Linked DNA regions of Homo sapiens. The protein of the gene in region 1 purifies or fractionates together with the protein of each later gene. This does not show direct contact. Each region holds a gene or a part of one and is shown in the gene's direction. Other genes may lie near its edges.

What was found.
Region 2: the proteins of DYSF (region 1) and KLHL41 purify together in Homo sapiens (affinity purification with western blotting, with the first as the bait; one study listed by BioGRID). This does not show direct contact.
Region 3: the proteins of DYSF (region 1) and ADPGK purify together in Homo sapiens (affinity purification with western blotting, with the first as the bait; one study listed by BioGRID). This does not show direct contact.

What each region holds. Positions count from the first base shown.
Region 1 is NC_000002.12:71,469,612-71,473,265, forward strand, and holds part of DYSF (dysferlin), read left to right. Parts: intron 1-3,654. UniProt on the Homo sapiens protein: Key calcium ion sensor involved in the Ca(2+)-triggered synaptic vesicle-plasma membrane fusion.
Region 2 is NC_000002.12:169,516,186-169,519,839, forward strand, and holds part of KLHL41 (kelch-like protein 41), read left to right. Parts: intron 1-2,004; coding exon 2,005-2,190; intron 2,191-3,654. UniProt on the Homo sapiens protein: Involved in skeletal muscle development and differentiation. Regulates proliferation and differentiation of myoblasts and plays a role in myofibril assembly by promoting lateral fusion of adjacent thin fibrils into mature, wide myofibrils.
Region 3 is NC_000015.10:72,773,751-72,777,404, reverse strand, and holds part of ADPGK (ADP-dependent glucokinase isoform 4 precursor), read left to right. Parts: intron 1-2,307; coding exon 2,308-2,533; intron 2,534-3,654. UniProt on the Homo sapiens protein: Catalyzes the phosphorylation of D-glucose to D-glucose 6-phosphate using ADP as the phosphate donor. GDP and CDP can replace ADP, but with reduced efficiency.

The sequences.
Region 1 (3,654 bases):
TGTAATTTCAGGACCTGCCTCCCAAAATAGACTATGAGCTCTGGGAGGCTGGACTCTGAGGGCAATTTTTTGGCTTCCCTGTCTAAGCACCTCTATTAATAGTAGAGGCTACTAATGAATACTTCTCATTCTTTTGTTTTTCTATTAATTAATTCATTAACTAAAACTACCATGAGTAACTGGGCCATAGTAGATATTTTTGACTGATTGTGTCAACGAGCAGCTTAATTTCCTATAGCATTTAATTGTCTGTACTTCTTTTCTGCCCTGCCCATTTTCCATTCCTTAATGTGATTATTTATATCCCTCTATTCATGCAGTTAGTTCATTGAACAAATATTTACTGAGTACCTACTACGTGCCTGGTGCTTTTCTAGGTGCTTGGATGCATACAAGAACAAAACCAGATCCCTACTGCTTTAAAGCTGAAACATCTTATTTCCTTGAAGGCCAGATCTGCTGCGTCCCCACTTGGTGAATTTCTGCCCTGTGTCATCAGCCAGGAACCCAGAAGTCATTACTGACACTTCCCTCTCTCTCATCCTGTCAGGGCGTCTCCTCCTCCAGCCTCCCCCTCCCACCTCTTCTCTTCTTGATCTCCTGGGGGTCTCTAGATTTGGGGCAGGAGTTGGGGGATCTTATAGAACTAGTTGGAGGTGGATTCCTGTCGTCAGGGAACACTCTTAACTCACCTATGTAGGGAAAGTGGGCTGAAGGCCCCGGACTCTCTGAACCTAGCTGTTTACATATTACAAATGACTTAAAATATTGAAAACAGCGGCCAGGCGTGGTGGCTCACGCCTGTAATCCCAGCAATTTGGGAGGCCAAGGCGGGTGGATCATGAGGTCAGGAGATCGAGACAATCCTGGCTAACATGGTGAAACCCTGTCTCTACTAAAAATACAAAAAAAATTAGCCGGGTGTGGTGGTGGGTGCCTGTAGTCCCAGCTACTCGGGAGGCTGAGGCAGGAGAATGGCATGAACCCAGGAGACGGAGGTTGCAGTGAGCCAAGATTGAGCCACTGCACTCCAGCCTGGGTGACAGAGTGAGACTCCATCTCAAAAAAAAAAAAAAAAAAAAGAAAAGAGCTTTCTCTTCTCTTCCTTCTTTCCTTCCTTCCTTCTTTCCTTCCTTCCTTCCTTCCTTCCTTCCTTCCTTCCTTCCTTCCTTCATTCCTTCCTTCTTTTTTTTTTTTGAAATGGACTTTCACTCTTATTACCCAGGCTGGAGTGCAATGGCACGTTGTCGGCTCATTGCAACCGCCGCCTCCCAGGTTCGAGTGATTCTCCTGCCTCAGCCTCCCGAGTAGCTGGGATTACAGGCACCTGCAACCATGCCTGGCTAATTTTTATTTTTATTTTTAGTAGAGATGGGGTTTCACCATGTTGCCCAGGCTGGTCTCAAACTCCTGACATCAGTCAATCCACCCACCTTGGCCTCCCAAAGTGCTTGGATTACAGGTGTCAGCCACCCCGCCTAGCCTGTTTTCTTTTTATAAACATAATATGTACTTGCTGTTAAAAATGACAAACTACAGAAAGGCCATGAGGCAAGAGTAAAAAATAGCCCCAAATCCTGCCACTTTGAATTAACTTGTTAACAATTTGACACATTTCCTCCAAGATTTTTTTTCTTAAAAATTTTAGTTATAAAATTTAACATACAAGGAAAGTGCAGAAGATATAAATATATGATTTAATACAGTAGTTCTCAACTGGGGGCAGTTTTTTCCTCAGATGACATTTGCCAATGTCTGGAGACATTTTGGGTTGTTGCCACAGGGGTTGGGGGCACAGGGTGTTTATCTACAGGGTAGAGGCTGAGGATGCTGCTAGACATTCCACAGTGCAAGGGGAGGTCCCCCACACCAACCACAGAGTGATTCAGCCCACATAGTAATCATGCCACGGTTGAGAATAAATATGTGTGTGAAGAGAATAACTATGTAATATCACCCAGGTCAAACAGGTCAAGAAATAGCACCTGGCCAGCCCCATTTCTCCACCAGAAGTAATCCCATCATAGATTTTTTTTTTCCCAAATGTTTGCACATTTGCTGAAAAATAAACCAGGGGGCCGGGTGTGGTGGCTCACGCCTGTAATCCCAGCACTTTGGGAGGCTGAGGTGGGCGGATTGCTTGAGGCCAGGAGTTCCAGGCCAGCCAACAGGGTGAAACCCTGTCTCTACTGAAAAATACAAAAATTAGCCAGGCATGGTGGTGTGTGCCTGTAATCCCAGCTACTTGAGGGGCAGAGGCACAAGAATCGCTTGAACCCAGGAGGTGGAGGCTGCAGTGAGCCGAGATCTCACCACTGCTCTCCAGCCTGGATGACAGAATGAGACTCAGTCTCAAAAACATCAATTAATTAATTAAAAAAAAATCCAGGGTCATTTTTTATGTCAGTAAGTATTCTTCTATAACACCTTTATAAATATCTGCGTAATATTTTCTTATATGGATGCACCATCATTAATTTACTCAACCCCCTACTGATGAATATTTAGGTTATATAAGTGTTTATATTTATATCCAGTGCTTAAATTATACAGTCACTGTGAGGCATATTCTGGTGACTACATCTTTGGCCACATATTTAATTATTTCCTTTGGGTAAATACCAGAAGATGAATTGCTATGTCAGAGGTTATAGACAGATTTAATGCGTTGCTGCATTTCCCAAATTGTTCTTGAAGTCTGTATCAACTTTATCCTCCTGTCAGCCAAGTATGAGGGCTTATTTTTCTAATAATCCTGCTAACACACAGCATTGTCCTGTAAATCTTTGACACTTTCTTTCTTTTTTTTCTTTTTGACAGAGTCTCATTCTGTCGCCCAGGCTGGAGTGGAGTGGCGCGATCTCGGCTCACTGCAAGCTCTGCCTCCCGGGTTCACGCCATTCTCCTGCCTCAGCCTCCCAAGTAGCTGGGACTACAGGCGTCCACCACCACGCCAGGCTAATTTTTTGTATTTTTAGTAGAGACGGGGTTTCACCATGTTAGCCAGGATGGTCTGGATCTCCTGACTTCGTGATCCACCCGCCTTGGCCTCCCAAAGTGCTGGGATTACAGGCGTGAGCCACCGCGCCAAGCCAACACTTTCTTAAGGTTCAAATAGTATTTGTGATACTTCATTGTTATCACCTATTCGTATTTATTCTTACTGAATTACTTTTTCATTTGCCCATGGTGGAGCATGTTTGTCTTTTTCTTCATTAGTTGCAAGTGCTCTTTATGTATTGAGAATGTTACCGTTTTTGTCATAGATGTTTCTAGTATCTTCTCCAGTTCTGTTTGTTTTTCTTTAATTGGCAAGTAAAAATTATATGTAAATATCTTCCCCAGTTCTAATGTAAATATCTTCCCCAGGCCTTCTGAGTTTAAAGACTACTCTTCTTGAAGTGCATTTCACCCTGGCTCCCTCCCTTTTTGGCCACTTCTGTGGTTCCAGCTAGGATTTAGGAAGGTGGGGTGGAGGGTGGTTGACGGGGAGAGGAGCAGTGCTCTGCTGATGATAGGGGAGACAGCTGCCCAGTTCTTGGGGTGTCCAGGCCTGAGAACACCATGGCAGGGCAGGTGTCAGAATGACCATCTACCTCTGCTTTTTGTTTGGGGGTGTCTGTACCAAGAGGTAATACAGGCCTTCCTTCAGCC
Region 2 (3,654 bases), about 98 Mb from region 1:
GAGCCAAAATTTAGAATTGTAAGGGCAAAGCAGGAAAGGAGAGTAAAATATAGAAATGTGTTAGATGTCAAGAACTCTATTCTGGAGTTAATGATTATTGGGTATTAGTCAATTTAAATGGTAAATATAGCACAGAAAAGGCGATTTTAAAAAGCAATGGTTTTTAAACATCTACCTGTATTCAAAGATAACATATTCTAAAATTTTTATATCCTCCCTAATCCCAGCTATTCCTATCAAATTTAAAGGAAGGTATATTATATGCTTACCTGGTGCCAGATCTTATTTTGGGCATTTTTCCTGAGTAAACTGAATGGAAAATCACTACTAAAGAGCATTCTGACTTTGGAAACACAGGAACCCTGCCAAATGATTTAAATTGTTTCCTTCAAGCAGCATTAGTAACTAGGAAATTGATATGTCAGTAAGAAGCATACAGTTCTTGTCAGTAGGAATATATCAATCTTGAGAATATGATTAACTAACACAACACTGCTTGACAAATGTCAAAGTCAAGAACTTTGAAATGAGTCATTATCTAAAAGTAAGTGCTGGGCTGGGTGCAGTGGCTCATGCCTGTAATCCCAGCACTTTGGGAGACCGAGGCAGGTGGATCACCTGAGGTCGGGAATTTGAGACCAGCCTGTCCAACGTGGAGAAACCCCGTCTCTACTAAAAATACAAAATTAACCGGGCGTGGTGCCGTTTGCCTGTAATCCCAGCTACTAGGGAGGCTGAGGCAGGAGAATCACTTGAACCCGGGAGACAGTGAGCTGATATCGCGCCACTGCACTCCAGCCTGGGCAACAAGAGCGAAACTCCGTCTCCAGAAATAAATAAATAAATAAAAGTAAGTGCTGAATTGCACCAGTTCCCACTAATGAATTTGAAGAACGTGATTTTGGATAATGTTCTTATCAAGAAGTGTTCAAATGATACCAATAGTCAAATATTAGAGGAAATGCTTCTACTCCAGATAACTGGTCTTTTACACAATTAAGAAAAAAATTGTCCTCACAAAAAAGTTAAGGTGTTTTTCATCACCAAATATATCCAGTTAATCAATTATTATTTGAAATTCTGAACTCCCATCAAATTATAGATAACTTCAAGGAACCATAAAAAACATACTAAGGGCGGGGCATGGTGGCTCACACCTGTAATCCCAGCACTTTGGGAGGCTGAGGCTGGAGGATCACTTGAGCTCAGGAATTCGAGACCAGCCTGGCCAACATGGCGAAACCCTGTCTCTACCAAGCATACAAAAAACTAGCTGGGTGTGATGGCACATGCCTGTGTTCCCAGCTACCTGGGAAGTTGAGATGGGAGGATCACTTGAGCCCTGGATGCGGAGGTTGCGGTGAGCCAAGATCGCACCACTGCACTCCAGCCTGGGTGGCAGAGTGAATAATAATTCAGATGAGTCCAGGTCTTTCTGGTAGCATTTAGCATGTAAAACTGTTGTCATGATTCATCAGCTCAGATGATTTGTTGTCTAATCCATAGTCCCAGATTTCTTAAAATGCACTGGTATGTTAGTGCTAATATAAAATAAAATGATCTATCATATAAAATTTAAAGTAGGTATATTTGCACCTAATTATTCTTTAAGTTAACTGATTCGTTCCTAGGATATTCAGATAATAAATAAACTTACCATTTGTTATTGAGGTGCAATAAAAGGTTTATGATTTTATTTTTTACTCAAATAGAGTAAAAAAACTTCAATTGAATTTAGTAGATACGATTAAAATCAGCTGTGCCTGGGGTTCTAAGCAGCTATCCAGAAGTAAAGGTACCCTATCTTCCAACAGTAAAATTAAGTTATAGTTTTGGTCCCCACATTTGGGCTTGTCCTTTGTTTAGTGGCATATGTTCAAATTAAGAATTCTTTGGAGTTTTCTGATCCTACTATATATTTTTCATGACAAGCAAAGCCAAATTATTAGTGAAGGTGCTGTCAAAAAAAGGTTCTAAAAGGAACATTTGTTTTTCTGTTTACAGAAAATGTACAAACAGGGTGTTTATCTTCAACCCCAAAAAAGGAGATTGGAAAGATCTGGCTCCAATGAAAATTCCTCGTTCCATGTTTGGAGTAGCAGTCCATAAAGGCAAAATTGTGATTGCAGGAGGTGTCACTGAAGATGGTCTTTCAGCTTCAGTTGAAGCTTTTGACCTTACAACAAATAAGTGAGTTGCCACATCTTAGTATATAGCATGTGAACAACTATACATTTTAATTGTTAACTTTGGATAAAAAGTTATCTTTCTAATTAGGATGTGGGGAGGGGAGGGTACAGAGCCACAGATTACAAAGGAAGTATTTTCATCTGGGTTTCTTTTGTTGTTACTGGATGTAAATCTTGTCTAACATTCTGATGCATTATATGTCTGTAATCTGGAACACATGACCCTTAAGTCAGTGTTGTCATGCTCTATTTGTCCTTGTTATTAACTTTGTGAATTTAGAAATGCAAAGGTAATACTTGTGAATAATTATGATTATTTTTAAGAGACAAGGTCTGGCTCTGTCACCCAGGCTGGAGTGCAGTGGCACAATCATAGCTCACTGCTGCCTCAAACTCCTGGGCTCAGGTGATCCTCTCACCTCAGGCTCCTGAGTAGCTAGGACTACCACTATGCCCAGCTAATTTTTGTTTTTGTTTTTGTTTTTGGTACAGACAGGGTCTCACTATGTTGTCCATACTGGTCTCTAACTCCTGGCCTCAAATGATCCTCTCACGGTGGCCTCCCAAAGTGCTAGGATTATAGGTGTGAGCCAGCACACCTGGCCCTGAATAATTGTCTGTGTAGATGGATATACATGTCTCTGTGGAATCATTTGATTTTAAATGTAGTTTCTTTATGAAAAGATCTTCACTTAACTTGTTAATGATTGATATCTGTAAAGTATGAATGCTTCCCAAGTTTTCATTCCTTTACGCTGTTTATAATTTTATTAAAAATTTCATTTTTAAGCTTTTATTGACTTAATGTGAAAAGATATTTGACAGCTATTCTTCATATAAAATTGGTCTTTTTAAAATTTTTGAGCTCACACATCTGGATGAGTATGTACCTTTTATATTCCTAGTTTAGCAATGAAGAAAAAAGAGAAATATTATTACTTTTTTTAGAAACATGTATGCCTGACTACAAAACAGACTTTAGTATCTGAAAATTACAAGGAACTTTTGTGGAACACTATTTAAATTATCATTAAAAATAATGTTTTCGAAGACTGTAATGTGGGTAAACACTCATGATGTAAGTTAAGAAGCAACACACAAAAATTGTAAATATCTTCTTAGTTTCATTTATATGTATGGAAGCTTAAATGTACATGCTTTTTAAAAAGATGACAAAATTACACCAAATTGTTGCTTGTGATTATGTCTGTAAGGTATGATTATGGAGATATCTGCTCTCTTGTATACCTTTCTGTACTTTCCAGATTTTCTCAAACTTTTTTTTTTTTTTTTTGAGACAGGGTCTCACTGTGTCACACAGGCTGGAGTACAGATTTTCTATAATGTACATATATTATTTTTATAATTAGAAAAAAATCGGCTAATTTTTTGTATTTTTAGTAGAGATGGGGTTTCACCATGTTGGTCAGGCTGGTCTCGAACTCCTTACCTCAGGTGATCCACC
Region 3 (3,654 bases), on another chromosome or scaffold:
TAGTTTTTGAAGTAGTTATTTTCAAAGACAGGTTTCCCTCCATTTCTGAACCTTTACTCTTCAGACTCGGGACCCAAATCCATTTGGATACAATTTTTTTAGACTGGGCTGTCTGGAGGAAATGGTATCCCTCCTTACTCAAGCCCTCACTGTCTGAAACTTAGGAACCTACTGGCGTCTGAGAGCTACAGATACTTGTATTCCTGTTGATTCTACCAATCTAATGTTGCATTCATTAGAAATAAAGGGCACCATGTCTGAGGTAAAATTGAGACCAGTTTGCAAGGTGTGTTTGGTTTCTTAACATTGAAGGTTGTGAAAGGAAAGATTTTAAACATATCTTTAAGCAACTGCCACGTGCATGTCCAGAATGGCCCCTTCTGTGTGTGTCATGGAGAAGTTCTGGCTTATATTTTCAGTGTTTCTTTACTAGAAATCATCCCTCTTTTAAAGAGAAGGGCCAAATACAGTAGCTAGATGTTTTATGCACTGAAAGGCATAGTAAATCTTAGGTTATGCTTCTCCAGTTGACCAGAGTCATTATGTGTGTCTTGAACAAGAAACTGAGTATTTAAATGCTATTTGATAGGCAAAACTCCTTTCAAAACATGAATCCCTAGGGGAAGAATTAATAAAAAGGACCCTTATAATGAGGATGCAGTCTCTTTGTGTCTTGAGGGAGGATGTCTCTTCCTTGCCCTTGTAAATCTTCCTTAAGTGATGTAAATAATATCTAGTCTGCATACAAACCTTTTTAAAGTTATGTCATTTTAAAAATTCTAAAAGGAATACAAGCATGTTAAAAGTAGAAATATACCTGGTAAAATTCCTCTTCATCCCAGTCTCATTCCTCTTCATTTTTGAAAGAGACTAAAAGGGAAATACAACTATGTATTTTACACCAAAATCTCATCCATTGGGACATTTTTATTAATGAGTTTACCTTGTGGTTTCAGAGCTGCTCAGAATTAACTCTGAAGCCCAGTCACCCGTATCACTAGGGGTGGTCTCAGTTTGCCGGCTGGGAGCTGCCTGTGTGGTAATCCAACCTCACTGGCCAGAATGACATCCCAATAGGCAGAGGCAGGAATAAAGATGACCATGATAGGGGTAGGGGCGGGAAGACCTCATCTAGCTACCTTAATTATTTGAACGTTCTCTTTAAAAGAGGGATGACTTAGCAAAGAAACCCTGAAAATGTAAGACAGACTTTCTCCATACACACATAGGAGAGGTCATGCCAGACAACCTTAGTACAAGTTGAGCATCCAGAATGCTCTGAAATCCAAAACTCTGGGGCACTGACATGATGCCACTGATGTATATTAAGTACTTATATGTGAAAATTCCACCCACACGTAAGGAATAGAAACTTTATTTCATGCACAAAAGTATTTAAAACATTGTATAAAGTTACCTTCAGGCTGTATGTATAAAGTATATATGAAATGTGTTTGGACTTGGGTTGCATTCCCAAGATATCTCATGTATATGTAAATATTCCAAAATCGGAAACACTCTGATCTCAAGCACTTCAGATAAGGGATTCAACCTGTACTTTATAATTTCCATCGAGACAACCAGGAGTGGCAGGTCTTTAACGTTCATGGGTCAGTCCTGTGAACACTGGCCAAAGGGTGAGTTCTTAAAATGCTGCAGGTGTGCCTAAGTCTGTAAAACACCACTAAATTCTAAGAGGCAGGGTTTCAGCTGGGAGTACTCAGGCATTTAGGAATTTATTGTATCTTACCATCCTCATTTGTTTTTAGAGGGAAGATGCCTGATACCTAGCCTTTGACTGAAACACATATTTTGCTTACTCTGCGCCAATTGCTGTTCCTAAGTATACATTCACTTATTTAATCTTAACCATAGCTCTATGAGTTAAATGCTCATATTATTGCCATTTTGTGGATGAGGAAACCGAGGCACAGAGAAATTAGTGACTTGCCCAAGTCACACGGCCAGCATGAATCCTGTTTGGCTCTGCCAGCGTTTTTCTCAGAAATGTTACATTTTTGTTACAGTAGCTTTGTTCTGAAATGCTAAGCACCTATCTTCTCACTTTGTAACTAGTGTAAAAGTTTGCCAAATTATTGAAGAGTCCTGTGTTCTGATGCTAATACATAAATCCAGTTAAAGTAATTTTTCTCCTGCCATGTGCTGTTTACTTCCCAATTCAGGTTTCAGACCTACTTCCTGTTTTTTCTGTTGAATAAGGTTCTGAGAAACATTTTCCTTTTGTTAAATGCAAAATGGCTACTTGGTGCTTCTGCTGCTTTCACACAGTTTTTTTCCTCCTTCTAGAGTCAATGCATGTGTTGATGTGGTGCTCTCAGGGGTGAAGCTCTTGCAGGCACTTGGCCTTAGTCCTGGGAATGGGAAAGATCACAGCATTCTGCATTCAAGGAATGATCTGGAAGAAGCCTTCATTCACTTCATGGGGAAGGGAGCAGCTGCTGAGCGCTTCTTCAGTGATAAGGAAACTTTTCACGACATTGCCCAGGTTGCATCAGAGTTCCCAGGAGCCCAGGTCTGTTTGGTTCAGCAATAGTAAATTAAGGGTGGAAAAAGATGCCTTTTTAATATGGTTCCTAGAAGCAAGCAAGCAACTTTTCATTCCAGTTTGAAGAGGAGGGGAGCAAAATCACCCCTGGTTGAAAACTGTGGGTCTAGGTTGATGGTTCTCAGACTTGAGCATGTGTCAGAATCATTTGGAGAGGCTGTTGAAACACAGATTTCTGGGCCTACTACCAGAGTTCAGATTCAGTAGATGTGGGATGGGACCCAAGAATTTACCTTTCCAGCAAGTTTCCTGGTTGATCCTGTAGGTCTGAGAACCTCCTTTTGAGAACCACTGGTCTGCAAGGTAGAACCTGTCGAAGTTAGAACCTTAGTGGTTTCCAAGTTCACCTGGTGATTATATACAAAGCCCTGCATGGTCCAGGCACTTCCTGGAGGTTCACGTGGAATAAGAGGCAGTGCTGGGGCTGGAGACCCAACCATGGCTCTTCCTACCTCACCCCAGTATGCCTGCTCCTACATGTACCCTCATGCCTCTTGAGGCTGAGTTTTGGTTGGTTGGTTATCTCCCATGTCTTGCCCCCACCCCATTCTTCCTCCTCATTTAAACCTCCCTTTGGCTGGGCACCCAGTCTGGTTTGGTAGTTCTAGCCAGGGAAGCTCTTAATGCCATTTTTAATTGGCACCTTTCACAGGCAAACCTTTGTGACTACTTTTATTTTGATGACTTAAGATTTTAGGCCGGGCACAGTGGCTCACGCCTGTAATCCCAGCACTTTGGGAGGCTGAGGCAGGTGGATTGCTTGAGCCCAGGAGTTTGAGACCAGCCTGGGCAACATGGTGAAACCCTGTCTCTACAAAAAATACAAAAAATTAGCTGGGCATGGTGGCATGTGCCTGTGGGAGGATCACCTGAGCCCGGGAGGTCAAGGCTGCAGTGAACCATGACCGTGCCACTTCACTCCAGTCTGGGCAACAGGGTGTGACCCTGTCTCAAAAAAATTTTAAAAATAAGTTTTTTGTCTTCGAAGCTGCCTATTTGAACATTAGAAATGGACATAGGCATTACCTAGCTGAGTTTCTAAAGGTGACAGCAAGTTAAGATTTCAGTTATCATTTTGACAACTGGGA